Regions from separate parts of the Homo sapiens genome. Here all the other regions are linked to region 4. Evidence: fine-mapped expression QTL. A gene starts in region 4. Each other region holds a variant in brackets. All regions are shown on one strand. Distances are between the middles of the regions. Region 1 overlaps FATE1 (fetal and adult testis expressed 1). Region 2 overlaps CD99L2 (CD99 molecule like 2). Region 3 has its middle 79 kb from the start of MIR4330. Region 4 holds the start of PRRG3 (proline rich and Gla domain 3).

Region 1 (7,904 bases), 31 kb after region 4:
TTTTACTGTCTTCACTGGCAATTAGTGGAGCCTTAACAGGAAGGAGTGTTAAATATGAGGGACATCGTAGTGTAATGGCTGAGAGTATAACCTCTGGACTGAAATGTCCTGGGTTCAAATTACTGCTCTGCTACTTCCTAGCTGTGTGACTTGGACAAGGTAATTAACCTCTCTGTGTTTCAGTTTCCCCTACTTTCAAAACGGGATGATAATGATACCGTTTCACAGGGCTGTGACGAGGAATCAGTCACTTAGTATTGGTAAGGGCTTAGAGGATGGCATGGTCCCTGGCATGTGGTGTGTGTTAAATAAGCAGCTTGTGAAACATTTCATCTTGAACTGGAAACCTAGAACTATGATTTGAGCCCAGGCAGGTCTGGCACCAAAAGCCACGCTCTTTTCCTCTATCCCCCACTGATGCTTCAAAGGCATCAGATGGCCCTGGCCCAAGGGCTCTGGGCCAGAGATGTACATGCTAGGGAGTTGTTGGCAGATGGATAAAAATGAAAGCCACAGGGATGGCTGGCTGAGCTTACCCAGAGGAGTTGCTGGTTTCCCAGTAGCCAGGGTTCTAGCCTTAGCCCTGACATTTACCACGCATCCTTGGAAAGTAAAGGCATCTCGCCAGGCCTCCATGGCCTGGGCTGCCAATCAAGGTTTTACGTTCTCCTTCAGTAGGTTGCTCAGCCTCTCAGCTAATACCTGCATGTGAAAGTTCTTGCAGAGGACAGGGACCCCTGTTACTGCTCCTCTTTTGCCACAGCCTGCCTGGATGACCAAGAGCTACCGAGGAGCATGGTGTGGGTGGGGTGGTGGCCAGCAGCCTGTGTGGGGTTCCCAAGCTTTCCTAGCGGCCTGAAGCTGCCAGCCCTTGATTCCAGAGACCAGGCACCATGTGATTCCCCATGGGGTGCACCATTGGCTCTGGGCAAACTGGAGAAGCCACTCATGTGGGGTTGGGCAGGCTACTTTACTGACCATTCCTTTCTTCAGGGGTCCCAGCTGCCAAAGCCCAGAATGCTGAGAGAATCAGGCCATGGGGATGCCCATCTCCAGGAGTACGCTGGCAATTTCCAAGGCATACGTTTCCATTATGATCGGTAAGAGCTGAGGGTCTGTGGGCCCTGGCTGCTCAGACAGGGCCCGGAGTGGGGCAGAGGGGCTGGTGAGCAGCCTGGCCAGGATGGAGTCATGAGGGCCTGGAATGCCTCCCTGTCAGAGACCATGAGTACCCTGGCTCCCTGCCCATTTGGGGCATCCCAGTGCTCTGCGGCCTAGCCGAGTTGGGCTGGACTGGGCTGGGCCAGGCTGGCTCAGGCTAGCTCAGGCTGACTCCCAGCCCTCAAGGCCCTAGGCCCTCTTTACCATGGAAGAGGACTGGAGGCTGATAGAGTCACTGTCCAAGAAGATCACGACCTTACCTGCTTGACCTCACTGCCTTCTTGTGCTCCCTGCCAGGGACCACCAGCAGCTTTGACCATCTGTCTTTTTTCTCTCCCAGCAACCCAGGGACAGATGCAGTGGCGCAGACTAGCCTGGAAGAGTTCAATGTACTGGAGATGGAAGTCATGAGAAGACAGGTGAGGAGGGACCCAATCGGTGGGTGCAAGCAGAATCACAGTGCCTTGGAATAGGCAGGGCTCGACAGCTGGGGTCCTGTAGTCCCTTACAGTCATCTTTCCCTTTAGCGCTGGAGGTGGGGCAGATTCCCTTCCTCTTCCTCCTCATCCCCATGGCTCTGACACCCCGCATAGATGTCCAGCCTCAAACTCACTGCTGTCCCTGAGATGCTGGTAGGGAATAGGGGCAGATAAAAGGTGGAGGAAGAGGGAACATACAAGGATAAGGGTTCTATGTCCAGAGAGAGAGTGATACCTAAGGGTCTGAGAGAGGGGTCGCCTTTGTTCAAACCAAACCCAGACCTTCTTAGGAGGAGATCCTTTCTTCCTTGGCTCCCCGGCGCAGCTGGAATGGGCTGGTCTCTTCCAGAGAAGGGAAGTGAACATAAGGGAGAAGGCAAAAGTGGGGCCTGCAGACGTAGCAGCCAGGTCTTTGGTCCCGCGGACCTGGCCCAGCCTCCTGCTTCTCACTAGGGGCGCTCCCCGCTCCACCGCCAAAGGGCAATCAAGCCCCTTCTTGCTCTAACTTTATGCTTTTCCCATGGCTGTGCTGTGGGCTTCTGGAGAAGAGCCTCGCTCAGCAGCCCTGCCTTTGACTCCTCTGCAGCTGTATGCAGTCAACCGGCGTCTGCGCGCCCTGGAGGAACAGGGCGCCACCTGGCGCCACAGGGAGACCCTGATCATCGCCGTGCTGGTGTCGGCCAGCATTGCCAACCTGTGGCTGTGGATGAACCAGTGATCGCCCCAGCGCGGCCTCCGTATTGGAGCCCTCCCTGCTTCCCCTTCTTTCTTTCCTCTTTCCCCAGGCCGCCACTGCCCTTGCCCCTTTCATCTCCCAGCAGCCCTCAGGAGCGTCAGGATCATTTTCAACTCTGGTTAGGCCTCCTACCTGGGGAGGCCAGGTCACTGCACTGGGAGGTCCTGGCTGCTGCGAAGCTGGAGGAGGACTGCGTGGGCTGAGATGCCACCCTTTGAAGGGTGAACAGCATGGCGGCATCTGGGCCCCACAGTAACACCTAGTGGCAACCTTGCCTTCCTGACCTCAGCGGCCCTTCTGTTCCATCCTCTGTGGGCAGGGGTGTGGCTTTGTTTTCCTCCCTCGTTTGCTTCCACCTCGTGCACAGCGCTCTGCACAGACAACACGCTCAATAAAAGTTCAGCCATAGCAGCAAAACCCTGTGGCTGAGGTTCCTGTGTCCAGCACTCACTGGGGGCAACAGTGGAGGTGGGGTGCGCTGGGAAACAACAGCTCCTCTTCACAGAGACCTTGTGGCTGGGACTGAGCCTCTGCCATTGCCCCAGGGGCCCTGGTTCCCTCCTCCCTTTCACCTCCCCCACCTCCCTGTCCCCAGCCCCAGCTTTGCAAAGTTCTTCCTGTTGGGCTCATGCAAACCAGTGCTTGTGGGGGTGTGGTTCTGGGAGCATGTCTGCGCTGTGTTGCAGGGAAGCAATCAGAGGAAATCTCCTGAAAGGGACCAGAAACCTCATTTGCGCAAGAGGAAATTGAATTCCAGAGAGAGGAAACATGTCCCTGGGTCATCCAGTGAGACAGGGCCTGGATGTGAGTTCTCTGGCGTGAGTTCTCCTGAGTCCTACGCTAGGGCTTGGCCTGCCTCCTGCAGACAGACTCACTGGAGATGAGGTCCTGCCTCAGCTCTGGAGGCTGAACGGGAGCTACACATACCCCTCACCCTACCCACCACACACTCTGGGTCCACAGCCCATGAAGCACACCTCAGACAGGGTGAATAGCTGGGCTGTCCAGTGGGGCTGAGCCTGAGAGGTGGAGAATGTTGCCTGCCATGTGGGGGCCTGACCACAGTGCAGATGTGCCTGGTGCAGGAGGCCTGCAGAGGAGCTGCAACCCCTTTCCCTGGGACCAAGGGCTCAACACACATGTCTCTGACCCAGAACTTTCTCATTGGCTTTAGTTGCTAAGTGCACCTTCCCTAATCCCCCAAATCTGTCAAGGATTCTCCATCTGTAAAGACTGGGAAGCGTGTTAGTCCCTAGGTATGAAATGAACGTGTGTGTCTGTGTATGTGAGAGAGAGAGACAGAGAAGAGACAGGGAGAGGAGGGGAGGCGAGGAGAGAAGAAAGGATGGAGGAAGGGAGAGGCAGAGAGAGAGATACAGTCAGCGATACAGAGCGGCAGAGGGAGGGAAGTTAGAGTAGAGAGAGAGAGAGAGAGAAGCTTGAGTCCCAGAGCCTGCTCTGTCCCTGCTCCACCTCTTTCTCTCTGGTCCTCAGTGGGCTCCTATACAATGAGGGGGTTCTTCCACGCCTGACACTCTAGGGCTTGCAATACTTCTAAGATGAGGATGCAGGGCCTCCTGTCAGCCCTGTGGGACACGAGGCACGTGGCCCCTGGAGCCTGGGCCCTGCTCAAAGCAGAGAAAAGGACACCTAGGAAAGAAACACCAGAGAGAAAGATTCTCTCTCTGGTCCCAGAGCACAGAGGTAATCAAGTGCCACAGGAAGCCCCTCTGCAGAATGGGGAAACAGCAGCACCCAGATATGAGTACTTCTGGCCAGGAGAGCCAAGAGG[G/A]CCAGGGAGTACCAGGGGTGTTCCCTGTCCTCTGCAAATGGGGCCTGGGGCCCCAGGAGTCACCCATGGGCTAGATGGAAGACTGGGGGACCTCCTTGCAGGCCGCCCCTCCCCTTCCTGCAGCTTCAGGACAGAGCAGGACCCAAGATACAGAGGAATATTAAGGGAAGCAGGGAGATGGAGCAGGGGCAGCACGTGCAGCTTCTTGCCATCAGCCCAGTGCTCCAACTGCCATGAGTCCAGCCTTCACACTGTCTACCCCGGGCTGCCCCTTTCTCCGGCCCCAGTCAGGCCCCACAGGGAAGCTCAGAGGAAGAGGAGGCTGCAGCTGGGAAGGGCTGGGTCTGCCCTTTGGGACCTGAGTGTTTGTGAGCCTGCACAGACATGGACATGTTTGCAGAAAAAGTCTGGCTGAAAATATGTTGTGAAACAAAGGTTCACCCTTGGGAGCAATTTAGTTGAGTTGCAAACAAACAGCACGGCAGTGCCCTAGAGGAACGTCTCCTGAGCCAGGTGGGCTCATAAGGAGCCCGTGGCTGGGCCTCCACCCTGCCTTTCTGTGTGACCATTTGGCTGGTTCCCAGCAGGGCTGGAGGCCAGTTCCTAGAAGGGCATTCCTGCTCTATCTCTAGAACTCCCTGCCCCACCTAGAAGACCTCAGGAAGCTCCTGAGAGGAACTGGAGTCAGAGCTGCCCAGTCTGGGCCCCTCTGCAATGTTCCTTAAGGGGCATGGGGACCATATTGTGGGGGCTGGCACATCTGTGATTCCCAAGCCTCTGGGAGATCCAGGGAGGCTCGGGGGCAGAGTGCCAGGAGGCAAGTTGGCACCTCCTGCCTGGCCCTCTGGCTCTGACCCACCTAGAGCATTTGCCCATCTGATTGCATTTCTCTGCCAAACTGTCCTTGCCTTGCCCAACCTCTCCACCCTGAGCCCAGCCCTTCCTCCAGCAAGCCATGAACTTCCCCATGGTGAAGCAGGATGCTGTGGGTGAATGAAGGAGGGAAGGAACTCATTCTTACTTGGGGGTGGGGGAGGGGATTCTCCTGGCGTGCTGTTTTTCTCTAGTCTTTGAAGCTTCCCAGGGGCTGCCCAGGCTTAGTATTAGAGGGGTACACATCAGTCCTCCACTGGATCAGTAGCTTCTTGAGGGCACAAGGTAGCCTGCATTGTCTTCTGCACTCCTGGAACAAGTAAAGGACTGGCAGGATGGCCTCTGATTAGGGTCCCCAGAGATTGAATCTAGCCCTGGTCTTCCCCTCCTGGCCTTTAGGGTATGCCTTCTGTTGAAAACCTTTCCCCACCAAAGGGAGCCAATTCTATTCTTCGCTTCCTACGGCACACCTACTCTGTGCCATGCACTTTGCATCTTAAAAATATTTAATTACGCAAGTTGTGCATGAACACATTCTCCCCAAAAAGGCAAACATTGCAGGCCTAGCTAACACAGTCCCTTGCACCCCAAATGCCAAGTCCCTCCACTGAATTATTTCCCATGGTTTGGTTGGTGCGTATCCTTGCGAACTCTCTATGCTGTTCCATGCAGATTATGCGCACCTGTATGTATCCCAGGCTTTGCACGCAGGATGTCATTTAAGCCCCTCCTAGCAGCCCCCTGAGGGAGTGGCTTGTCTTCCCAGCTGGCTGCGCAGGTGGGCAAAGCTTTAATCCTCCATTTATGTAGTTCTCTGCCCTGCCAAGTGGGCCCCTGGTCCCCCGCCAGTCCTGGTCAAAAGCTGAAACTCAATATTCCAGTTCTTTTGTCACAGGCTGGCTTCCTGGCAGCTGGTGGAAGGTGGGAAGAGGAAGGTGGGCATGTGAGGAGGGGTACATGAGGGTGCATGGAGGGGACTCTGGTGTACCCAGGAGCAGCCTGAAATCCTGGCTTCTTGGAAAGGAGCCCAAAGCTCACTGCCCCAAGGGTCTTGCCTTGTTTCCCTTCCCTAACCCCAACCCTTCTTGGAGGCCAAGTCCAGGGGACCTGGCAGAGAAGGTATGGATTTTCCCCTCAGGCCAGCCCTACCCCAGGTACCTCTTCTCTCAGATTTCTCCCTGGCTTGACCTCAGATCAGGTGGACTGGTTGAGATTGTGCCAAGGTCTGGAGGCAAGTACACCAGGGCTGTGAGCTGGTGGGGTTGAATCCCCAGACACATAGCTCTGAGCATGCTCCGTGCAAGGCAGGGCTCCTCAGGGAGCTTGGGAGGGGCTGGCTTCTGGATCTGGGCAGGCAAGCAGCTTCTACAGCCAGGCAGCCCAGCACCCAGCCCTCGCCTGCCAACAGCCTGGGGTGTACAGTGCCCACAGACAGGCCAGCTTCTCCATTGGGCAGGTGACACCCTGGGGCAGCGTCTTGAGTTTGCCTTAGCCATGAGCATGAGCTCTTCTTGGCCTCTGCCAGCTTCTCCTGTTGGCCTCAGGCAGGGTGGGGCAGCTCTCTGACCCCGAGGCTGCAGCTAAGTTGTCAGGGGCTCAAGGGCCCCGCTGGCCTGAGGGGCAGGAATGGCAGGAGATCTCTGTTAGCTCCAGATGCCGATGAGCCCCCAGTGGTTTGTCTCTGACTGGAGGTTGTGCAGAAGGACCAACGGATGCTGACTGGCCAGGAGAGCCCCTGCCTCTGAAGCCATCTGATTGGTGAGGAAAGCGGCTGACCTTGGGCTGATACCTTTCTGTGACCACAGGCCAGTTACCTCCATGGGGGTACAGAACTGGAGTCCGTGAAAAGTGCGTGGGCCCTAGAACCTGGCTTGACATGGGTCTTCATATGTGTCATCTGCCGAGGGAGCTGAGGAAAGTGGCTGTGTTGGGAAACTTTGTCCCCTGTTAAAGCAGCCAAAGAAATTATTTGGGGCTCTAGGAGGGTGGAGGCCCTGAGTGCCACACAAAGCTTGTCCTGAAGCAGCTGGGACTTTGTCCTTTCCCAGGAGGGTGGCAGGGAGGGTTGCTGGAGCAGATTTGGAGCAGAGGGACGGAGGGCCTGCCCGACAGGCAAGCTTCAGTGGGAGGAAGGGGGGAACCCATAGGCCTTCACTGCCTGTCTGACTCCGAGCATTTCTGGGCCCCTCAGCTTCAGAGCACGGGCAGTGTTCACTTGGAGCCTGTGGCTCTCTGCATATGAGTAGCAGTGGAGGTAGGGGTGTGGGTTATGTGGGCTTCTCCCAGGAGCCATGCTGGGATTGCAGCCTTTGCTTTTGGCTCTTTGAACTGTACCCTGACCTCTTTCGGAGATCCTTAGAGGGGATCACCCACTTCAGGCCTCTCAGGCTTGGGAGCCAGCCACTCTGCCATTTGGGGAAATGCATGTGGGGTGAAGCCCTTGGAGCTTCTGGCTGAGGGAAGATTCTGGAGCCAGGCAGCAGGCCTGGGGCAGAGATAGGCTTCCAGGGCTGCTTCAGGCCTGGTACCCCGTTTGGGCTCCCCAGCTGAGCTTGCATCCATCTCAGCTTGAGCCCAGAGTGGCAAGTGTAAGCTCCGTCCATGTGAGACTGTGGCCATAGGAGGCAGCTAGTATTGGAGCAGCCTCATCTCTAGACATCCTGCCAGTAGCTGGGTCCCTGGGCCCCTCTTTCTGCATAGCTGGGCCCCCTCCAACTGCTCCTTAGTACCACTCATCAGTGACCACCTTCTCCAGAGGGAGGGACACTAGTGCTTGGACTGGACACATGCATGTGGCAGACAGAATATGTACCTGGTTGATCTGCAGGTGTCATGGTGGCCACAAAACTGCCAAGACCAGCCC
Region 2 (7,904 bases), 890 kb before region 4:
CCCAATGACATTTGTTGCAGAAATAGACAAATTCATCCTAAAATTCACATGGAATTTCAAGGAATCTCAAACAGCCAAAACAATCTAGAAAAAGAACATAGAAGAGTCACACTTCCTGATTTTAAAACTTACTACAAAACTACAAATATCACAACACGTGTGGTACTGACATCAAGAACAGACATACAAACCAATGAAATATAATAGGAAGCCCAGAAATAGGCCGGGTGCAGTGGCTCACGCCTGTTATCTCAACACTTTGGGAGGCTGAGGCAGGTGGACTGCTTGAGCCCAGGAGTTCAAGGCCAGCCTGGCAACATTGTGAAATCCCATCTCTACAAAAAATACAAAAAATTAGCCAGGTGTGGTGGCGTGCACCTGTGGTTCCAGCTACTTGAGAGGCTGAGATAGAAAGATTGCTTGAGCCCAGGTGGAGGCTGCAGTGAGCCGTGACCACACCACTGTACTCCAGCATAGGCGACAGAATGAGACCCCGTCAAAAAAAAAGAAGAAGAAGAAGGAGAAGAAGGAGAAGGAGAAGAAGGAGGAGAAGGAGGACAGAACACAGGAAGGGAGGGAGGGAGGGAGGAAAGGAAGGAAGGAAGGGAGGGAGGGAGGGAGGAAAGGAAGGAAGGAAGGAAGGGAGGGAGGGAGGGAGGGAGGGAGGAAAGGAAGGAAGGAAGGAAGGAAGGAAGGAAGGAAGGAAGGGAGGGAGGGAGGGAGGGAGGGTGGGAGAACAAAGGGAGGGAAGAAGGGAAGGAAGGGAAAGGGGAGAAAGGAAAGGAAAAGGGAAAGGAAAGGAGGAAGGAAGGAAGAAAGCAAGCCCAGATATAAACCCTTGCATATACGGTCACTAGATTCTCAACAGTATGTCAAGACCATTCGATCGGGGAAAGGACAGTCTTTTCAACAAATGGTGCTGGGAAAATTGGATAGCCACATGCAAAGGAATGACTTCGGACCCTGACCTATACTACATACAAAAATTAACTCAAAATAGATAGAAGATTCTTAGACATGGTGGCATGAAAAAAAGAAATAGTTCAAAGACCTAAATATAAAAGCTAAAACTATAAAACTCTCAGGAGAAAATATTATGAAAAAGTTTCATGATACTGGATTTGATGATGATTTCCTGGATATGATACAAAAGCACAGGCAACATCAACAACAAAAACAAAATAAATAAATTGATCTTCATCAAAATTTAAAACTTTTTTTGAGACAGGGTCTCACTCTGTCACCCAGGCTGGCTGGAGTGCAGTGGCACAATCATGCCACTCAGTGCAACCTCCGCCTTCCAGACTCAAGTGATCCTCTTATCTTAGCCTTCTGAGTAGCTGGGACTACAGGCGTGCACCACCATGCCCAGCTAATTTTTGCATTTTTTGTACAGACAGGGTTGCCCCATGTTGGCAAAGCTGGTCTCAAACTCCTGGACTTAAGCCATCCACTTGCCTTGGCATCCCAAAGTGCTGGGATTATAGGCATGTGCACCATGCTCAGCCTAAAATTAAAAACTTTTGTGCATCAAAGGACAATATCAAGAGAGTAAAAAGATAACTCACAAGAATGGGAGAAAATATTTACAAATCTTACATCCAATAAGGGATTAATATCCATACTATATAAAGAACTTATACAAGTCAACAACAACAAAAACCCTGATTTTAAGGCTAGGCACAGTGGCTCATGCTTGTAATCCCAGAACTTTGGGAGGCTGAGGCAGGTGGATTACTTGAGTCCAGAAGTTCAAGACCAGCCTGGACAACATGGTGAAACCCTGTCTCTACCAAAAAAAAAAAAACAACAACAAAACACAAAAATTAGACAGGTGTGGTGGCACACCTGTAGTCCCACCTCCTCAGGAGGCTGAAGTAGGAGGACTGCTTGAGCCCGGAGATGGAGGTTGCAGTAAGCTGAGATCATACCACTGCACTCCAGACTGGGTGACAAAGCAAGACCCTGTCTCAAAAAAAAAAAAAGGAAAAAAACCAAAAAAGTGGTTTTAAAATGGGCAAAGGACTTGAATAGACATATCTTCAAAGAAGATATACAAATGACCAATAAGCACATGAAAAGCTGCTCAGTGTCACTAGTCATTAGGGATATGCAAATAAAAACTGCAATGAGATACCAGTTTGCACCCATTGGGATGGCTATTATTAAAAGAAAAATGAAAAATTACAGGTATTGGTGAGGACATGAAGAAATTGGAACCCTGGTATATTGCTGGTGGGAATGTAAAATGGTGCAGCTGCTGTGGAAAACAGTTTGGTACTTCCTCAAAATGTGAAACAGAGTTACCATATGATCCAGCAATTCCACTTCTAGGTCCATACCCATATGAATTGAAAGCAGAGACTCTAACAGAAATCTGTACACCAATGCTCCTAACAGCATTATGCACAACAGCCAAAAGGTGGAAACAACACAAATGGCCATCAACATATAAATGGATAAGCAAAATATGGTATATACATATAATGCAATATTATTCAGGCTTAAAAGAAAGAAACTCTGGTACATGCTGCAACATGGATAAACCTGGAAAACATTACATTAAGTGAAATAAACCAGACACAAAAGAACAAATATTGTGCAATTCTGCTTATAAGAGGTACCTAGAATGGGCAAATTCTTAGAGACAGAAAGTATAGCAGAGGTTACCAGGGGCTAGGAGTAAGGAGAAATGAGGAGTTACTGTTGTAGGGGTATAGGGTTTCTAGCTGGGCTGATGAAAAACTGTTGGAAATGATCATGGTAACAGCTGCATAACATTGTGAATACCGATGATCCTCCATATCCATAGGTTCCACATCCAGAATCATGTGTTTGACCAACCATGGATCAAAATATTCAAAGAACAAAAAACAAAAAATAATACAACTATAAAAATAATATAAATTTTTAAAATACAGTATAATAACTATTTACATAGCATTATATTGTATTAGGTATTATAAGTAATCTGGAAATGATTTAAGCTATATGGGAGGATATGTGTAGGTTACATGCAAATACTATGCCATTTCATATCAGAGAATTGAACATCAAAGGATTTTGGTATTTGCAGGGGGTCCCAGAACCAATGCCCAGCAAATACTAAAGGAGGGACAAATGTCTACTAAGTACCACTGAATAATACAGTTAAAAATGGTTAAAACAGTAGATTTTATATGTATACTTACCACAATAATAAAAAACTCAGCTGGGTGCAGTGGCCCACACCTGTAATCCCAGCACTTTGGGAGGCCGAGGTGGGTGGATCACCTGAGTCAGGAGTTCGAGATCAGCCTGACCAGCATGGAGAAACCCTGTCTCTACTAAAAATATAAAATAAGCCGGGTGTGGTGGTGCATGCCTATAATCCCGGCTACTCGGGAGGCTGAGACAGGAGATTTGCTTGAACCTGGGAGGCGGAGGTTACAGTGAGCCGAGACCACGCCATTGCACTCCAGCTTGGGCAACAAAAGTGAAACTTCGTCTCAAAAAAAAAAACAAAAAAACCCCAAAAAAACAAAACCTCAACCTCCAGGACTTGGTGATTTACCTGGAGAGTTCTACCAAACATTTAAAAAGGAATTATCACCAATTGTATACAATCTCTTCCAGAAAGGAGACAAGAGGAAATACTTCCCCACTCATTTTGTAAGGCCAGTATTACCCTGGTAACAAACACAGATAAAGACCTGTATTAGTTCGTTTTCACACTGATATAAAGATACTGCCTGAGACAGGGTAATTTATAAAGAAAAGAGGTTTAATTGACTTACAGTTCCTCATGGCTGGGGAGGCCTCAAAAAACTTACGATCATAGTGGAAGGCAAAAGGGAGATTGGCATCTTCTTCACTTCACAAGGTGGCAGGAGAGAGAGAGGAGCAAAGCGGGAACTGCCAAACACTTTAAAAATCATCAGCTCTTGTGAGAACTCACTCACTATCGTGAGAACAGCATGGGGAACCATCCCTATGATCCAATCACCTTCCACCAGGTCCCTCCCTAGATGCCTGGGGATTACAATTCGAGATGAGATTTGGATGGGGACACAGAGCCAAACCAGATCAAGACCTTATTAAAGAAAAAAAAAACATATAGACTAATGTCTCTCATCAATTTACATGCCAAATCTTCAACAAAATATTAGCAAACAGAATAGAATGTATAAAGAGAATTAAACAGCATGAAAAATGGAATTTATTCCAGTCAGGCAA[G/A]TTGGATCAATACTTGAAAATCAACGTAATCTACCCTGTCAACAGGCCAAAGAAGACAAATCACATATCAATGGACATGAAAAAATCTAACACTCATTTATGGAAAAAAAATACTTTCAGCAAATTAGAAATAAAGGGGAACTATCTCAACTTCATAAAGAACATCTAGAAAACACCTATAGCTATCGTCAGACTTAATGGTGAAAGACTGAATGCTCTTTCTTTAAGGTCTGAAACACCAAGGACATCACTCTTACCACTCTTATTTAATATGGTACTGAAATGTCTAGCATTGCAATATGAAAAAATATATACAGATTGGAAAGGAAGAACTATATATGTTTCTATTTGCAGATGACATGATCATGTACATAGAAAATTCCAAGAAATCTACAAAAAATTTCTAGAATAAGTGAGTTCAGCAAGGTCTCAGGATACAAGTTCAACAATATTGATCACATATCATAGCAGTGAACATATCAAACCCAAAATTAGCCATTCACAATTGCTCCAAAGAAAATATTTAGGATGGGACGGTGGCTCACGCCTATAATGCCAGCACTTTGAGAGGCCAAAGTGGGCAGATCACCTGAGCTCAGGAGTTTGAGACCAGCCTGGGCAACATGGTGAAATCCCATCTTTACTAAAAATACAAAAGTTAGCCAGGTATGGTGGTATGTGCCTGTAGTCCCAGCTACTTGGGAGGCTGAGGTGGGAGAATCTTGCTTGAGTCAGGGAGGTGGAGGCTGCAGTGAGCCAAGATCACACCACTGCACTCCAGTCTGGGCAGCAGAGCGAGACTCAGGCTCAAAAAAAAGAAAAGACAATTTTTTTTTTTTTTTTGAGACAGAGTCTCGCTCTGTCGCCCAGGCTGGAGTGCAGTGGCGTGATCTTGGCTCACTGCAAGCTCTGCCTCCCAGGTTCACGCCATTCTCCTGCCTCAGCCTCCTGAGTCGCTGGGACTACAGGCACCTGCCACCACGCCCAGCTAATTTTTTGTATTTTTAGTAGAGACGGGGTTTCACCGTGTTAGCCAGGATGGTGTCGATCTCCTGACCTCGTGATCTGCCCGCCTTGGCCTCCCAAAGTGCTGGGATTACAGGCGGGAGCCACCGTGCCCAGCCTTTTTTTTTTTTTTTTTTTTTTTTTTTTTTTCTGAGACAGAGTCTCACTTTGTCGCCCAGGCTGGAGTGCAATAGCGAGATCTCAGCTCACTGCAAACTCCACCTCCCGGGTTCAAGCAATTCTCCTGCCTCAGCCTCCTGAGTAACTGGGATTACAGATGCGTGCCACTACACCCCGCTAATTTTTGTATTTTTATTAAAGACAGAGTTTCACCATGTTGGTCAGGCTGGTCTCGAACTCCTGACCTCGTGATCTGCCCGCCTCGGCCTCCCAAAGTGCTGGGATTACGGGCGTGAGCCACCATGCCCGGCTAGAAAAGAAAATATTTAAACATACATTTAAACATGTACCGGATCCTCTATACCAAAATTTACAGTGTTCTCAAGAAAAGACATCAAAGAAGACATAAATCAATTGAGAGACATACCGTATTCATGGATTAGAAGACTCCACAAAGTAAAAATGTCAACTGTCCCAAAATGGATCTATGTTTAATACACATCCTATCATAATCCCAGTAAGTTTTTTTCTAGACTAGGCAAAGACAAACTTAATCTAAAATTATATGAAAAGGCACAGGCCCTAGAAGAACCTTAAAAGAACTTGACAAAGCAGAATAAAGTGGAACAAATCACTCTAACCAATATTAAAGCTGAATTTATAGTTATAGTAATCAGGACTGTGGCAGAGGGACAGACAGACAGATCAATCAAACAGAATGAAGAGCCCAAAAAGACCCCAAATACACTCAAGTGATTCTTGATAAAGGTACAAAAGCAATTTGATAAAGCATAGTCTTTTGAACAAACGGTGCTGGAGTAATTGGGCATCAATAGGTAAAAACAATGAATCTCAACCTAATCCTCACACCTTATTAAAAATGAGCTCAAAATGGATGATCATCTTTACTTAAATATAAAGTTATGAAACTTCAAAAGAAAACATAAAAAAAATCTTTGGGACTGAGAGCTTGGTAAAGAGTTCACACAATTGACAACAAAGCCACGTTTCATAAAAAGAAAAATTGATACATCCACCTTGTGAAAATTAAAACATTTCCTCTGTAAAAGACCTGTTTAAGAAGATGAAAATATTCCATTTTCAACAATGGACAAGTCATCCAGACAGAAAAATCAATAAGGAAACAGCGGGCCAGGACAACACTCTAGACCAAATGGACCTAACAGACATACACAAAACATTCTATCCAACAGCAGCAGAATTCACATTCTTTTCAAGCACACATGGAACATTCTCCAGGATAGGTCACATGTTAGGTCACAGAAAAGGTCTTAATAAATTTAACAAGATTGAAATCATATCAAGTGTCTTTTCCACCCACAATGGTACAAAACTAGAAGTTTGAACAGAGAATTGGAAAATTCACAAATGTGTGGAAATTGAACAACATTCTCCTGAACAACCAACGGGTCAAAGAAGAAATCAAAAGGGAAATCAAAAAAATTTTTGAGACAAATAAAAATAGAAACACAACATACCAAAACTTATGAGATGCAGCAAAAGCAGTCCTGAGAGAGAACTTTATAGCAATAAATGCCAACCTAAACAAAAAACAAAGATCTCTCCAGGCACGGTGGCTCATGCCTATAATCCCAGCACTTTGGGAGACCATGGTGGGCAGATCACGAGGTCAGGAGTTCGAGAACAGCCTGGCCAAGAGACCAGCCTGGCCAACATGGTGAAACCCCATCTCTAGTAGAAACAGATGAAATAAGTAACAGAAGAACAATAAAGTCTATAAAAACAAAAGATGGTTTTTGAAAAGATCAACAAAATTGACAAACCTTTAGCAAGATTGACAAAGAAAAAGAGAGAGGACTCATTACTGAAATGAGAAATGAAAGAGAGGATATCACTAATGACTTAATAGAAATAAAAAAGGATTTTAAGGGAATATCATTGACAAAAGTATGCCAATAAATTGGGCAGCCTAGATGAAATGGACAAACTCCTGGAAAGATATAAACTACTGAAGCTGACCCAAGAAGAAATAGAAAATCTGGCCAGGCGTGGTGGCTCATGCCTGTAATCCCAGCACTTTGGGAGGCCGAGGCAGGAGGATCACCTGAGCACATGAGTTCGATACCAGCCTAGGCAACATGGTGAGACCCTGTCTCTATTAAATTAAATAAAACAAAATAAAAATAAAACTAAAACTCTACTAAAAATACAAAAATTAGCCAAGTGTGGTGGCAGATGCCTGTAATCCCAGGAGGCGGAGGTTGCAGTGACCTGAGATGGCGCCATTGCACTCCAGCCTGGGCAACAGAGCGAGACTCCGACTCAAAACAAACAAACAAACAAACAAACACAAAGATCTCAAATAAACAACCCAGCTTTACAACTCAAAGAAAATTAGAAAAAAAACCAAAACTGAACTCATAGAAGCATAGAGCAGAATACTGGTGGCCAGGGGCTGGGGTGGGGAGTAGGGAGATGCTAGTCAAAGGGTGCAAAGTTTCAGTTAGACAGGAGGAATAAGTTCTGGAGATTTATTATAGAGCAGGGTGACTATAGTTAATAATAATATATTATATACTCAA
Region 3 (7,904 bases), 610 kb before region 4:
CCCAGCCATACCATTTGGCATCCTAGAGCTCTTGGCTCAGAGGGGGAAGAGGGAGCTGAGAAAAACATCTTTGCCTTATATTTGCTAGACCAGAGGTTCTCAACTCTCATGAGTATGGGTCTGAATTTCAGTTCAGAAATATTAATGTGCAAGAAATATATATGTTTCTTCTAAAACAAACTAATTACTGATGCCATATCTTATTCTTCCAGGATGTCAGAAAGCTTAACCTCAGGACTCCTCCAGGGTTGTGCCACAAATCAGAGACCTTGGACCTATGACCCCATCAACCCAGATGCCTCAAGTAGTCACTCACCCCATTCCCCTACCAAATTTTCTCAGCCACCTTGGAGTGCTCCAGAATCACCTGAGATGTGTGTTCAGTCTCTTGTTCTGCCCTCAGGTCAGACTCAGTCAGTGTCATTTGACCCTTACTATACCAACAAACAGCATTGACTGCACTTTATATGTACTAGCCATATTGCTGAGCATGCTGCATACACCTTCTCAGGTGGAGGCTGCCAAGAGTTGGGCTAACTGTTCTGGCTCTACGGTTAGACTACCTGTATTTGAATTGGATCACTGCCACTGACTGGTTGGGTGACCTTGGGTGAACCACTTATTCCACACTTCGGTGTCCAAATTGATAGAATGTCCCAACTTCATAGAGTTGTCATGAGGATCACAGATTCAAATACCTGCGAAGGGCTTGACATAGAGTAAGTACCACAAAGTATTTTGTACTATTATTAGTTATCCCCATGATACCATGAGCTAGGTATTTATTACAATGTTCATTTTATAGATGAGGGAATTTTGGCCTACAGAAATCAAGTAACTTGCCCAGGATCGTAGACAGAAGTGACAGAACAAAACCTCAAACCAAGGTGGTCACATTCTAGTGGTTAATGTCATTGAGCCTATGGCTACTGATATGGTTTGGCTCTGTGTCCCCATGCAAATCTCACCTTGAATTGTAATAATCCCCACGTGTCAGGGGCAGGACCAGGTGGAGGTAAATGAATCATGGGGGTGGTTACCCCCATGCTGTTCTCGTGTTAGTGAGTTCTCATGAAATCTGATGGTTTTATAAGGGGCTTTTCCCCTTTGTTGAGCATTCACATGAGATGCAAATATCTTCACAGTTTTTGACCACTCAGAGAGGTCCATCCACATAGCAAGTGTGCAAAAGAGGGGCCTACTTACCATGGAGAAGAACTCACAGGCTCAGAGAAGTGGCTTACCCAAAGTTATATGGTCACATGGCTCATCAGTGGGAGAGGTGAGATTTCCACTATGGCTAATTCCAAATCCCTCGCAAAAGTGTGTAGATATGAAAGGGTGAAGAAGGCTTTGGAAGCATTGAATTGACTCAGATTACTAACTCAGGGTAAAAACAAATGATGGCTCATGTTTCCGTTGAAATGACAAGCAGATGAGCAGCATTTTAGAATGAACTTGTTTGATGAGGATCATCAATGGTGAAATGTCAGTCTTCATCTTACTTGAGTTTTGAGCAGCGCTTGATACGGTTGCTCACTCCTTTTTCCTTTGAAACACCCTTCAATGGCTTCCAGAACACTCCTCTCTCCTGGTTTTTCCTGGTACTTTACAGATTATTTCTCTTCAGTATCCTTTGCTGGCTCCTCCTCATCAGCCTGTAACTTTTCCTCTTTTTTTTTTTTTTACATTTTTTATTGTGCTAAAATATATAAAACATAAAATTTGCCATTGTAACCATTTTAAATATATAGTTCAGTGACATTAATTACAATCACAGTGTTGTGCAACCATTACCACTGTTCATCTCCAGAACATTTTCATGATCCTAAACTGAAACCCTATACCCTTTAAGCAATAACTCTCCATCTCCTCCCCCCTCTGATAAAAGTGCTTATTAATTCCCATTCTACTTTCTATGTCTATCGATTTGCCAATTCTGAAGACCTCATATGAATGGGATCATATAATAATATGTGATCATTTGTGACTGGCTTATTTCACTTAACATCATGTTTTTCATGTGTATCCATGTTGCAGTGTGGATCGTTACTCGACCTTTTGTTTCTGAATAATGTATGTATATCCACATTTTTCTTATTCATTCATCTGTTGATATATACTTGAGTTGTTTCTATCTTTTGGCTACTGTGTATAATGCAGCAATGAGCATTGGTATACAAATACCTATTTGAATCCCTGTTTCCAATTCTTCTGGGTGTAAACCTTGTCCTCTTAATTTTGAAAGACTCCAGCAACCAGTCTTTGTGCTCTTCCCTTACTATGTTCTATGTGATCCCACCTAATCTCCTGAGTTTAAATACAACCCAATGCTGCTGTGTCCCAAATGCCTATCTTCAGTCCAGAAGTCTCCCCTGAACTCCAGACTTCTGTCTGCAGCTACCTCTTTGACTCCATCACTGGGTTGTCTGGTAGCGTCTCAAAGAACAGATCCACGCCAAACACTTTCTTGGTATTTTTCCCAAACATGCTACTGCTGTATGTTTAGTAAATGGCAACTCTGTTCTTCCATTTGATCAAGCCCCCAGACCTTGAAGTCTTTGCCTCTTTCCTCACTTATTACAGCCAACCCATTGACTTGTCAATCCATTGACCAATCCAACACAGTTTGTTGACTTTAATAATTTCACAGTATATCCAGATTCTGACCACTTCTCACAACCTCCATGACCACCACCCTGGTACCAGCCACCATCAGTCCTAGCCTGGGTTACTCTACTAATCTGCTAAATGGTCTCCTTGCTTCTGCCCTTGCATCTCTCACTCCATCATCTATTCCTACCCCAGCAACCAGAAGGGTCCTTTCAGAGCATAAGCCAGATTATGGAAAGTCCTTCAACGACGTAATCAAAGTTCCTACAATGGCCTACCTGATATGGCTCACTGTCTCCTTTGTGACAGATCTCTCTTCACTTCCCTCTTATTCACCACACTCTAGCCATACCAGCTTCCTTGGTTTCCTTCTAACACGCTGGACACACTGTTGCCTCATGTGATCTCATTTGCTGATCGCTCTGGCTCGAACACTCTTTGTCTAATCATATGCCAGTCTTTGCTCAAATGTCACCTTCTTAGAAAGTCCTTCTTTGACCCACTCGATTTAAAACTGTGCTCCTGCTCCCTTTCCAGTTTCTCCGTAGCACTTATCATCTGGCATACTCTATCTTTTACTTACTTACCGTTTGTCTTCTCCAACCAGAGCACCAGCTCTGTAAGAAGAGAGGCTTTTGCTTGTTCTGTTCTGTGATGTATCCTTAGTTCTAGAATAGCTTGGCACAGAGTAGGCACTCAATAAATATTTGTTGGATAAACACATGAATAAAAAAAAAAGTGTCATTTCAAACACAATCAACTGGGTACCACATCCTGTCTCAAACCAAAACTCTTTTTTCATAGTGCACTTCTATGCCGACTTTTTTGAAATCTGATGCCTCACTCCACACTCCCTCATCCCAGCATGGTTAAGGTCTCCATGTCCAAGCCCATATCTTCCCTGTGCTTTTCTCTGTATAAGCTTCATCAATATGTATGTATATGAGTCATTTTTTCCCAATCAAAACTGCCAACAATCTTGTCTGCACTTGCTGTCT[C/T]CTTTTTCTTACTTCCCACACATTCCTCACCTCACTCTGATCTGACTTCCTTTTCTATCATGTCACTAAAACAGTTTCTGTTAAGGTTCCAAGGCTCTCTGTGTCACCAAATCCCTTGGTCACTTTTGATCCTTATCTTTCTTCGCTCACATGCCTTCTTTTTGAAACCCGCTCTGTCCTTGACTTCCAGTCCCCAGCACTCTTCTGGTTTGTCTTCTATTGCTCCAACTGCTCCTTTGCAGGGTCTTCTTTTAGTCAACCTCTAAACAAAGAGTTTCTTAAGTTACAGCCTAAGACCTTCTCCTCTTCCTAGTGTTTACTCTAAATTTTCAGTCTCAGCCATCTATGGCTTCAGTCATCCCTGTACATAGACAACTTTCAAGCCTATACCTCCAGCCCAGACCTCTCCTGTGAGCTCCAGACCCATAAACTTATGGTTTGATGAACACATGTCCTCTTGGATATCACAAAAGCCCTTCAAACTTAACATGCTCAAAATCAAACTCATGATCTTCCTCCCTACTCTTTCTCCTTATATTCCTTCAGTGTTCCCTATATCAATGAATAGTACCACATTCATCCAATTGCAGAGCCAGAAATCCAAGTGTCATTCTTGCTGTCTCCATCTCCACCATATCGAATTCATCACCTAATTCTGACAATTTTACTTCCAAAATAGTGTATTTCAAGTTCACCAATTTCTCTCAATATCCACTATAACCACCCCAAGTCTAGCCACCATTATCTCTGGCCTCAACAACAGTAGCCTCCTAATTGACCTCTCCCTTTCCACTGTAGCATGCTCCAAGAACTCCCCATGCTACAGCCAAAGTGATCTTTTGAAAATGTGAATCAGATGATTTCAAATTACTGCTTAAAATTCTCTATGACTTCCCACAGTTCTTAGGAATCAGGCAGAAATCTTTTGTGTGGCATCTAGCTCTGGCATGTTGGCATCTAGCTCTGGCTCCTGTGTATACCTCCAGCCATACTTCTCACCTTGCACTTCTGTGTTGGCCCTCTTCTAGTTTACCAATAAATCCAATCCTGTTTGATCTTGCTATAGGGCTTTTGCAGACATTGTTCCCTTTGTTTGAAATGCTTTCCTTCTCATCTTTGCCTAGTTAACTTCTCCCCCCCTTTTTTTTCTTTGAGACGGAGTTTCGCTCTTTTTCCCCAGGCTGGAGTGCAGTGGTGCAATCTCGGCTCACTGCAACCTTCACTTCCCGGGTTCAAGCGATTCTCCTGCCTCAGCCTCCCGAGTAGCTGGGATTACAGGCATGTGCCACCACATACAGCTAATTTTTGTATTATTAGTAGAGACGAGGTTTCACCATTTTGGCCAGGCTAGTCTCGAACTCCTGACTTCAGGTAATCAACCTGCCTCGGCCTCCCAAAGTGCTGGGATAACAGGCGTGAGTCACGGTGCCCCGCCCTTCTCCTCATTCTTGATGTTCAGTGCAATCATAACTTTCTAAGGAAAGCCTTTCCTGACCTCCCTGATTCAGACAGATTCTCCCATCCTACTCCTTAATAGCACCATGTACTTATCTCTCCTTCGGAGCACTTTTCTCAGTTGCAATTCTCCATTTATTCATGGGATAATATAATTGATATCTATCTTTCCCATCAGACTAGAAGTCTATTATAACAGGTTCTTTTTATTTTTCTTCAGAGACAGGGTCTGTCTCTGTCACCAGGCTGGAGTGCAGTGGCATGATCATAGCTCACTGTAGCCCTGAGCTTCTGGCCTCAAGCAAGCCTCCCACTCAGTCTCTCAAGTAGCTGGAACTACAAGCGTGTATCACCAAACCCGGCTAACTTTTAAATTTTTTGTAGAGACAAGGTCTCCCTATGTTGCCTAGGCTGGTCTCAAACTCCTGGCTTCAAGCGATCTTCCCACCTTGGCCTCCCAAAGTGCTGGGACTATAGGTGTGTGCCACTGTGCCCAGCTGAGAAGGGGTTCTGATCTGTCTTTCCTTACCATTGTATTCCAGCATCCAATACAGTGCCTGGCACAGAGTGGGAGTTAAACAAATGTTTGTTGAATGAATTAATGACAAAGAGACTATTGGTGACCTTAATGAGAGCAACTTAAGAGGTGAGATAGGTAAAGGTAAGGGGCTGTGGTCAGAAAATGTGATGACTACATGAGGAATTTCAGAGGATCAGTACATTTGGGTCATGACTATGGAAGGGGTAGATTAGGAGTGGGGAGGGAAGTTTACTGAAATGAGATGGCTGGCACATGAAGCAGGGCCCACTACTCCTTGAAAGTCTTCATGGCCATATATGGTGACAGGCAGATGCAGGGGTATGAAGAGGGCTCCAGTGTTTCTTTGCTTTCCTCTCTTCCAAATTCAGGTCTCCTCAACAGTGGCCTTAGGCTCATTACTAGGCCCTTGGTTGTGGGTCCACAGAAGTGATAGCCACATAGAGGCAGCAGTTTCTCATAGACTGTCCCACAACTCCTCTTTGTCATTGACTTAAACAGCTAAACGTGCTTAACTTTCCATGTTTTCCTGCAAGCCCTGACTTGTCCACCACACCAGTGCTTTAGGGGGAGTCATTAGTAACTCTTGATCTGATCTTTCAATGCTCTCTTCTGGACCTTCACTTCCCAGCTCTTCCCACCCTTTTGCAAAGTCGGATTTCCCAGAATCCCCACAGTGGCTCTGCTTTCCTGACTGAACTATGACTGGTACAGTTATGGCTAGGTTCCTCTTGGACACCAAAGTCACCCAAAAGGATAGTCCAGCTTTGGAGTAGGAGGAAGACAGTAAACTAAATCTCCAGTGACTGAGGCGCCATGACTAGGAGGTCATTAGATGATGGCAACCAGGAGGGAAATAGAGTGGTGGAACCAACTAGATAGACTGAGTGGCTAAAAATTAGGGGGTTTTACATGCAGGTGGCAGAACAGTGGCCTGAGCAAAGCACTATAGAATGAGGAGAATGCTTACCCTTCTCCTACTCTTAGGTGAGGGGCTCCCAAGATACGCGGGTGAAAGCCAGGGCTCAGAATGAGAAGGTAGAGAAAGACTCCAGTTAAGAAAGCCAGACTAGAGTTTGATTTTATAGACTAGGGGTGGTTGAACAGTGCAGTGGCTGAACACCACTGTGCTGTTCATGTGTATGTGAAACAGCCACATACACAAGTGAGCTTGAGAGAATTGTTTGCCTCCTCTGTGCCTCAATGTCCCCATCAGTGCAATGAGACCATGATAGTACCTACCTTATAGGACTACTGAGGAAATTAAAGGAGTTAATGCATGCAAAGTGCAAAGAACAATACTCCCTTAAAGTAGTGCTTAACAAGTAATACATACTCACTGAAGTTTTTTTTTTTTTTTCATTTGGCCCTTATCAAAACTCTGAGGTGTCAGCAAGGTAGGGATTATTGCCCCCAGTTGAAGAATGTGATACCCTGAGAGGTTATGGAGTTTTCCAAGAATCACACTTAGGAATAGAGTTCAGACAAGTCCCTGGTCTCCTAACTTGCTGGCCAACACATTTTCTACCACTGCTCCCTGCATTAGGAGTTCTGAGAAATGGTGAGTGAACAGGTCAGATGATGAGTAGTGTTGCATAAGCCAGGAAATTCTTCTCATCAAATCATGCCTTCACAGAGCCCTCAGTTATAGCCACCCCACCTAACAGTCACCCAGTCTTTACCATCAGCCCCTTCAAGCTGGGGTTCATCCTTTAATTGTCTCTGATTCCAGGTCCCTCCGCTGTTGGTCCTCAGAGCTGGTGGAAGATTGAATCTGCCCTTACCTGACCTAGTACATCCTACTGAGTTCCTGTTGAGCTTAATGTTCAGACAAACTAGTGATCTGATTAGCCCCAGTGTCTCCTGCTCTGGTTAGCCCCCTGCTGCTCTAATAGAGGAGGAGGGAGATTAAATGAGCAATGATGGTGAGGTGGTGGAGCTGCTGAAGTGTGTTTATAGATGGATTTTTAATATAAAAAATAATGACAATTGGCACTGGCAATTAATATATAATGAAGGCCCAGTAGCTGGAGCTGCTGATAAGAGGATAATAAATTGAAGTGTGAGAAACCCCCAAACCAATAGAGTAAATATCTGGAAATATTCATACAACCAGTAACTATGCGCTTTCCTTTGCCATTGGTTAGGGTGATCCAAGAGGGGAGCAGACAAGCAGATAGCAGGAATTACCCTAATATCATGAAGGGCAGGGCAGAGTGGGATCCTTTTAGCAGGTGAAAGCAGGGTTCTTGGAAAATTAGCAAACAGTGGTGGCAAAAGCATCAGAGAAAGGAGCCTGA
Region 4 (7,904 bases):
TGATCTCCTACTCCCTTGACCTACTCTCCAGTGGTGCTTTTGCCCTGTTCTCTACCTCAGCCACTTCCTTCTACACTCATCCTAAGACCTGGTTGACATCTATAACCACCATCTCTCCAGAACCTCCATTTCATGTATCCAGCTCTCCAACCACCGGCTCACTCCTTTTAGTATTATGACAGTCCTCTGACCCCTGTGGGGACCCTCAAACCAAAGATTCTACTGTTGATTTCACTCTCCTTCACCAAACCCTGATTCTGTCCTTATCTCCCTCCTTACCCAGCCTAAAATCCATGGTCAATCATTATCATTTCTCCCTTGAATCCACATAAAACTACTGTGTCCCTCCATTATATCCCTGTACTCATCTGGCAAAACCCCAACCCTGATGAAATCCAACTCTACCTACTCTAAATATCCACAAGAACAATTGAATATGGTTGGAGAAAGCCATGCACATATGTTGAGTAGTTTCACTTTAAAATAATGACCATCAACCCTCAAGTGGGCCCTCCATGCAGCCCAGAAATCACGCTACAGTTCCACAGAACATCCACTCTCTTGGCTCCCAGAAGACGACTATTTCAAGCCTTCTCTCCTCAAACCACTGACATCCCTCACCCCAACTCCCAACTGGTGGCTTGGCTTTCTGTGTCACTGGGAAAATAGAAGCCATCAGAAGAGCACTTTTCCAAGCTCTGCCATCGCCTCTCCCACCTACCTACATCTGTGTCTCTCCCTCCTGCATCACCAATTTTTCCCACGTTACTGGCTCATTAGCATACAAACATGTTACAGGGCTGGAATTTATCTCATATTTTAAAAATACTTCTATCTTGTCCTCTCATATCCCTACCACCCCCAACCCCAGCTTCTCTGTTCTCCTTCACAACAAAACTCCTTACAATACTTGTCAATCATTGGGTACTCGCTGTTTTCAATTCCTTTTTTCCTACTCTTGTCCCTCCACATTTTCCTGGAAATGGCCCCTGTAAAGACATTCATGACCTCCACATTGACAGACATAATGCTCAATTCTTTGTCCTCTTCTTATTTGTCCAGTCCGTAGGATTGGAATAGCTGCTCACCGCCTCTTTCCTGATACACTTTCTGCAGTTGTCTCTACGTGTTGCTGCACCCCTCCTGCCTCAACATCACTCCTTACTGGCTCCCTTGCTGGCTTTTCCTCGTCTAAATGTAGGATTGCCTGGGGCTTCGTTCTGGGGCTGGTTTGCTATCTCTACATTCATTATCCTGTGGATCCAATCCAGTCTCATGACTTGTAATATGAACGAAATGTTACTCATTCTGTGATTATATCTCCAGCCTTGATATTGCCCCTGAACTTCACACACGTCTATACAACCCATTCCATCACTGTTTTTCTTATCTCAGTTAAAGGGCCTCCATCCTTCCTGTTCCCTTGACTGAGAACCTTAGTGCCATAATTGATTTCTGTCTCTGTCCTAGCTCAACTCCAAACTGGCATCAAACCCTAATGACTCTTCCATCAAAATCAATCTTGAATCTGCTTGCTTCTTACCACCTCCACTGCATTGCCTGTTGTAAAATAGAAATCAGATCGTGGTAACCACTGACTCAGAATCCTCACTGTCTCTCCACATGACTCTGACTAGTAGCCAAAGTCCTGACAGTGGTCTACAAGGCCCTGCATGATCTCTTGCTACCCCCATCTTAACTACTCTGACCTAGTCGCCTACCATCCTCCTCTCTGGCTTGCTTCACTTCAGCACACTAGCCTCCTGCCTAACCCTAGAACATGCTAAGCTTCTGCTCCCAGGGCTCTCGCACTTGTGAATTTCCCAACCTGGAATAGGATGGCCCCTCAACTCTTTCAAATCTTGGTTCAAATGCCATCTTCTCAGTGGCACATTTCCTGACTACCTTATTTGAAATCTCTGCTTCACTTTTTCTTCATGGCACCAATCACCATCTAGCATCCTGTATCTTTGACTTGTTTTTCTTTTTTTTGTGTCTAATATCCATGAGGTTAGGAGTTTTTATTTAATTTTTTGGCTTCTGTAATCCCAAGTCCTAGAACAGTGGATAGCACGTAGTATCACTGAGTAAATGCTTGATGTAGGAGTTGTTTCAGTCTGTCTTAACAAAGTAGGTACTGTGGACTGGGTGGCTTGAACAATAGAAATGTATTGTCTTCCAGTTCTGGAGGCTGGAAGTCTGAGATCAAGGTGTGGGCAGGGTCAGTTTCTCCTGAACCTCTCTTGGTGGCTTGTGGATGGCCACACTCTCCCTGTGTCTCCACATAGTCATTCCTCTGTACATGCCTGTGTCCTAATTTCCTCTTCTTATAAGGACTCTAGTCACACTAGATTAGGGCCCAGCCTAATAACCCTATTTTACCTTAATAACCTCTTTAAAGGCCCTATTTCGAAGTATGATCACATTCTGGAGTACTGGGGATTAGGACTTCAACATGAATTTGCAGAGGGACACAACTCAATCCATGACACCTGATTAACTTGTTGATCGGTTTGCAGAGATGGAATGAGTCTCTTACAGGGTAAGGATCAATGCTTAGGCTCAGTCAGGACATAAAAGGATGGGAGCAGCAGAGCTCAGATAAAGTTATCCATTCAATTCTGGAATGGATGAGTGTTGGGGAAAGAGTGAAACTCTGGGAGTAAATGAGGTTGTCAGAGAGTGCTCCTCTTAGCCAAAGGGTGAGGCACAGGGATGGGGCTGGGGAGGGGCAATGTGGAGGAAGGTAATGGAATTGGTGGTGATGAGACATGAGGAAAGAGGCAACTGGTCAAGGCTTGCAGAGGGGAGAAGGTGAGGAATCACAAGTGGTGGGTGACTGAGAATTCTGTTACCTGGGATAGGATCGGGGATATTGGAAATGCCACCCATAGGCACGATGGCTTACATACTTCGTGGGACCCAGTGAAAGTGAAAATGAAGGCCTCTTGTTCAAAAAGCATTAGAATTTCAAGATGGTGATAGCACAGCCTTGAGCCAGGTGTCCAGAGCCCTCTTAAGCACAGGGCCCTGTCTGACTCCATGGGTCATACACCCACAATTCCGGCTCTGCCGGAACAGAAATGGGGGCAGGTAAGAAGGCAATGGAGGCCTTCTCAGCCCCAGCCCCTCCAGCCTCAGCTTGACAAGTCTCTAGAGAGCACCAGCTGTGGATGAGGTTCTGTGCGAGATGGTAGGGACACAGGAAGAGACAAGGTCCCTGGCCCCAAGAGAGGAGGCAAGTGTGCACGTAAGTGAGCTACCAAATGAACACAAGGTAGCTGGATGCAGGCCAGCTGATGTGCATTAAGCTCACACTTAAGCGCCAGGCACATTCTATGTGATTAGCTCCACTACCCGCTTAGCAACGCTTTGAGGCAGGCACTGTTAGCATCATTCTCATCTGAAAGGTAAGGAAACCGAGATGCAGAGAGGTCAAACACTTGCTGGAGATAATAGAGCCTACTATGTAGTACCACCAAGAGGTGCAGCAGGCACTACGCTCCAGAGGCACTGCTATTCCTCCTCCCCCACCTTGCTATCCACCGAGGCCCCCATGTTCATAGTCTCTGCAGATAGTCCTGAGAGTGGAATGGCGGACTGGGGTGCAGGAAGGATCCTGCAAGACCTCACAGTAGAGATGTCATGCGCACTGTGTGGGAAGAATGAATGCAAGTGCTCCAGGTCCACAGTGGGAGGAAAGGCATTCTGGGCAGTGGGAAGTAGAAGTAGCCTCATGTGGCTGGAGCCAGAAGCTAAAGTGGGAGTGCCAGAAGGAGGGCAGAAGCCATAGACCCTTGTGCACATACTGGAAGAGCTGCTTTTTTAACAGTCAAGTGCACAAGGGTCTATGCGGTGTTAAGATCACGATGGGAACATGCTGGTGGGCTAGGAAACTCAAGAGGTTAGTTCCAGAAGAGTCTGTGGAATTCTGCCCCACAGGCTCCGGAGGCATGGGGGGAAGGCCATAGAAGAGCTGTCGTGGGTAAGGAAGATTCCTGCAGCCGTGAAATAGCAAGCAAGCTAGGGAAGAACTCTAACAGGAGGCAGAAATGGAAGGGAAAGCACCATGCGGGGAGAGAAGTGTAGAGGCAGGCATCGGGGGAGCTAGGGGAGCCAGGCCCTGGGGGTTGGAGGGGAGGCGGCCGGTGGCAATGAAGGCCTTCGCCCACCCCTCTTCCGCCCCCTGGCAAGGCAGGTTGCTAATACCCGCCCTGGGATAGGGGTGGGAGTGGTTCTGGAACCGCCTTCTGAGACTCATTCCCATCAAAAGCAACACTTGGGGTGGAGGGAGGAAGAGGACGCCAACCCCAGTGCCTGGCCGGGTTCTAGATGTGCAGAGAACAAAAAGGAACCCTAAAAACCCAGCATCCCCTTCTCCGAGGGAGGCTTTCCTAGACCCAGAACCTCAGCCCACCCGGAACCCCTTTGCCCCTCTCTTAGCAGTGGACCTGTCATGTGGTTCCTCCTGGACTAGTGTAATCTCTGCTATGCGTCTTGTCCTGCCATGCTGAACTTCTCACAGTGCGGCCTCCGAAGGAGCCCCCATCTAGCGCTCCTTGCAGTCGCAGAAGATTCCTTCTCCCCTTACTGAGCCTTAGAGTTTTCCAAACCCATTTCCTCCTTCAAATCGCTGCAGCCTCGCGAGGGAGGCAGAATTCTCCCCATTTCTCGGACTTTGCAGGAGAGAAGCCTGCCTTCCCGGGGCAGGGTGGGGGTAGGTAAGTGAAGAAGCCAAGGTCACCCAGTCATTGGCGGAACGCGGCCTCGACTCGGTCCTTCTTCTGAGGGCCCTGTGGATCCCTGGCAAGGCAGGCCTAGGTTGCAGGCTAGCCCCCCTCTCTTTTCGTTGGCCCCAGGAGCCCGGCGGGCCTGAATGGCAGGTGAGCCCGGGGGGTGGGGACAGGACGCGGGTTGGGCTGCGCAGGGACGCCTGGCGCGCGGGCCTTGGGAGCGGCCGCCGGAGCTCCCTGCTACGCCGTATCTTCCGAGGGCCCACGCCTTGGGTCACGACTGGACCAGGGCTTTGACCAAGGGTCCTCTGTGTGCCCCAGGCCCGCCAGTCAGGCCCCGCCCCCCGGCGGCACGGGCGGGGGCAGGGGCGGCGCCGGCAGAGTGGGGCGCGGGCGCGCGGTGCTCGGTGCGCGCCGCCGCCCCTCCGGCCCGGCTTGCCCGCCCGCTCTCCCAACCCCCTCGGCCCACTCCGTCGCCCCCACCCCTCCTTCCTCCACTCGGCCAGGCGGCCGGCGGCCCGGTGCGCGGGGCAGCGCGACGATTGCGGCCTGGCGATCGGGGCACTGCGGTCGTGGCGCGCGAGGCGCGGGGCGCGAGGCCAGCCCTGGAACGGCGGGGTGTGGGGGGCGGGCAGCTGCGGAGCCCCCAGAGGAAAGCAGGGGCAGGCAGGGGGGTGCCGAGGTAATGGGCCGGGCCTGGGCGCCCGGCTGCGAGGGGCGGGGGTTCCAGGCGCACTTCGGCCCTGGAGGGGCGGGCGACAGGGTGCCCGGGGCGGTGGGAGGGCAGCGGGGAGGGGAGGAAGGGAGGGAGGAGACGGCTGGGCCGGACCGGGGGGCTTGGCCGACGGGGAGCAGGTGGGCGGGGACAGGGCCCCTGCTGGAAGAGGCGCAGCAGCGAGGTGGCGGGCTGCGTGCGCAAACAGGGCGGCCGCCTTCTGGGCCCGGAGAACGGTGAGGCCATTTGGGTTGGGTGTCCCAGTCCCGAGGGCACGGTTCGGTATCCAGGGCCAACGAGCTGGGTGCAGGGCATTGTTGAGGAGGGAAGATCTAGAGGCCTGTCCGGGCCAAGGGGATGGGGCGTATTGAACAGCTCCGGGAGAAGAGTGTTGCTGGGTCAGGGCGCTGGTGTCCAGCGAAGGTGGGCGAGGACAGGCACTTTCAGGGCTGGCCTGAGTGGAAAGGGACAAGGGGGCCCCAGAGTTTGAGTTTGAGCATAATTTGGGAGTTGTCGTGTCACTGGGTGGGTCGATGAGTCATGCGATTTGGAGAACCCTTTCCTGGCGATCAGTTCTGAGGGATGGAAATAAAGTCTAGGGTTTGGAGAAGTGGTTTGGAGGCCATGTCTTGGGACACCAGGTGCTCTGGTGGTCACCAGGCTTCATGTGAGGGACTTTGGGAGTTGTGTCCCAGAGGCCTGAGATTCAGAAGCTTCAGTCTGGGGTGGAGTTAAGCAAGGTCTTTGTGGTGGCCAGTTCCCTGCCTTCCTTCCTTTCCAGGCTGTCAGGATTCAGCTGTGTTCCTGCGGGGAGTGGGTTAAAAATTCCTTCCGCCTACAGTCAGCTTTACAGTATCCACCAGGGGCATGGGGGACATATACATGTGTGGCTGCAGCATCATTCTTTGTCGTGGAGCCCTCACGATTGCTTCCTTATTGTTGCCATAGTAACTGTCTACTGATGGTGTATTTATAGGGGAAGAAGCAGGCGCTACATTTTGGGGAGGGAGGGGGAAGAGGCCTCGTGGCAGGCAGCAGCAGCAGTGAAGGTGGCTACAGAATTGCTAATGGAGTGGGCCATGCCATGGGAACTGTTTTGGGGGTGTTCCTGGCTCGACTGAAGCTTAAAAATGAACTGGTGACTTTAGCAGGTGCGTCAGGATAACATGTATTCGGGTCTATGATAGGTGTGACATATAGCCACCTTTGACCAAGGCTAGGTGTGTGGGGGACAAAAGATGGATATATGTAATCTATTATGTAAATTTTTCTCCATTTTTTTAAAAAACCACTGCAGTTTCCTTTGATAAGCATATTTTTCTCTCTTCCCTTATTAAGACTATATGCATTCTTCTCAAACCCAGATACAACAGCTCCATTTTTCTTCAAGCAAAAAATCCTTGCCATGAGGCATACTATATCCACACCCTCACCACATAAAGCTCAGGTATCCATAATGCAAGCAGAATTTTGAGATCATATTCCATCTTGGTTCTGACAAACATTGAGGGCCAACTGTCTCACAAGGCAGGCCATCTGTTGACAAATTCACATGTTGATAGTTTTGAGGGAGATTGTTGCAGGGTTCAAAAGAGAAAGCCCCTTGATGTGGCGTTTCCACAAATAGATGTCAGATCTGCTGTTTTACCTTTAATTTTCTTTTCTTTCTTTTCTCTCTTTCTCTCTTTCTTTCTCTCTTTCTTTCTTTCTTCCTTCCTTCCTCCCTCCCCTTCCCTTCTCCTTCTTTCCTTCCTCCTTCCCTTCCCTTCTCCTTCCTTCCTTCCTTCCTCCCTCCCTCCCTTCCTTCCTCCCTCCCTCCCTCTCTCCCTCCCTCTCTCCCTCTCTCCCTCTCTTTCTCTCTTTCTCTCTTTCTTTCTTTCTGGCTTTGTAACCCAGGCTGGAGTGCAGTGGCGCAATCTCAGCTCACTTCAATCTCCGCCTCTCTGGTTCAAGCGATTCCCCTGTCTCAGCCTCCAGAGTAGCTGGGACTACAGGCATGCACCGCAGCATGCCTAACTAATTTTTGTATTTGTAGTAGAGATGGGGTTTCACCATTTTTTGGTCAAGCCAGTCCCAAACTCCTGACCTGAGGTGATCCGCCCGCCTCAGCCTCCCAAAGTGTTGGGATTATAGGCATGAGCCACCGCGACCAGCCTAAATTATTGATTTATATCCTACCTGTTTGCCAAAAGGATTAGGTGGCATATTATAAATGCACAATAGGACACTGGAAACATAAATAGAAAGCTGTATACCACATCGCAGGACAGAAGCATATGTGCTTAACAGCTGGGCTTCCAGGGTGCCTGTGCTTGACTGGCAATAGTGACGCTGAACTTCCTGGCAGCCTAGGCAAAAAGGAGGGCTCAATGGATTCCACAGTTCACGTGTCTTGCATCCAGTTAGTCATCAAACCAGAGCTTCTGCTTGGGGAGGGGAGCAGTGGGGTGATTGCT

Evidence for each region. PIP is the estimated chance that this variant, and not a neighbour inherited with it, causes the effect.
Region 1: its variant is fine-mapped to the expression of PRRG3 in minor salivary gland (GTEx, PIP 0.93).
Region 2: its variant is fine-mapped to the expression of PRRG3 in hypothalamus (GTEx, PIP 0.93).
Region 3: its variant is fine-mapped to the expression of PRRG3 in cerebellum (GTEx, PIP above 0.99).

The regions. Positions count from the first base shown.
Region 1 is chrX:151,720,402-151,728,305 of GRCh38, forward strand. It overlaps FATE1 (fetal and adult testis expressed 1), which reads left to right. Exons shown (of 5, transcript NM_033085.3): 3 at 994-1,100; 4 at 1,502-1,580; 5 at 2,227-2,793. The coding sequence ends at 2,358. Among named protein-coding and RNA genes, the nearest start is that of FATE1, 8.3 kb to the left of the region's middle. The variant G/A (reference allele first, on the strand shown) is at 4,169.
Region 2 is chrX:150,797,542-150,805,445 of GRCh38, forward strand. The region is part of intron 4 of CD99L2 (CD99 molecule like 2); the gene reads right to left. Among named protein-coding and RNA genes, the nearest start is that of CD99L2, 97 kb to the right of the region's middle. The variant G/A (reference allele first, on the strand shown) is at 4,216.
Region 3 is chrX:151,084,835-151,092,738 of GRCh38, forward strand. No RefSeq gene overlaps it. Among named protein-coding and RNA genes, the nearest start is that of MIR4330, 79 kb to the right of the region's middle. The variant C/T (reference allele first, on the strand shown) is at 3,612.
Region 4 is chrX:151,689,861-151,697,764 of GRCh38, forward strand. PRRG3 (proline rich and Gla domain 3) reads left to right here and starts at 5,598. Exons shown (of 4, transcript NM_001372163.1): 1 at 5,598-5,684.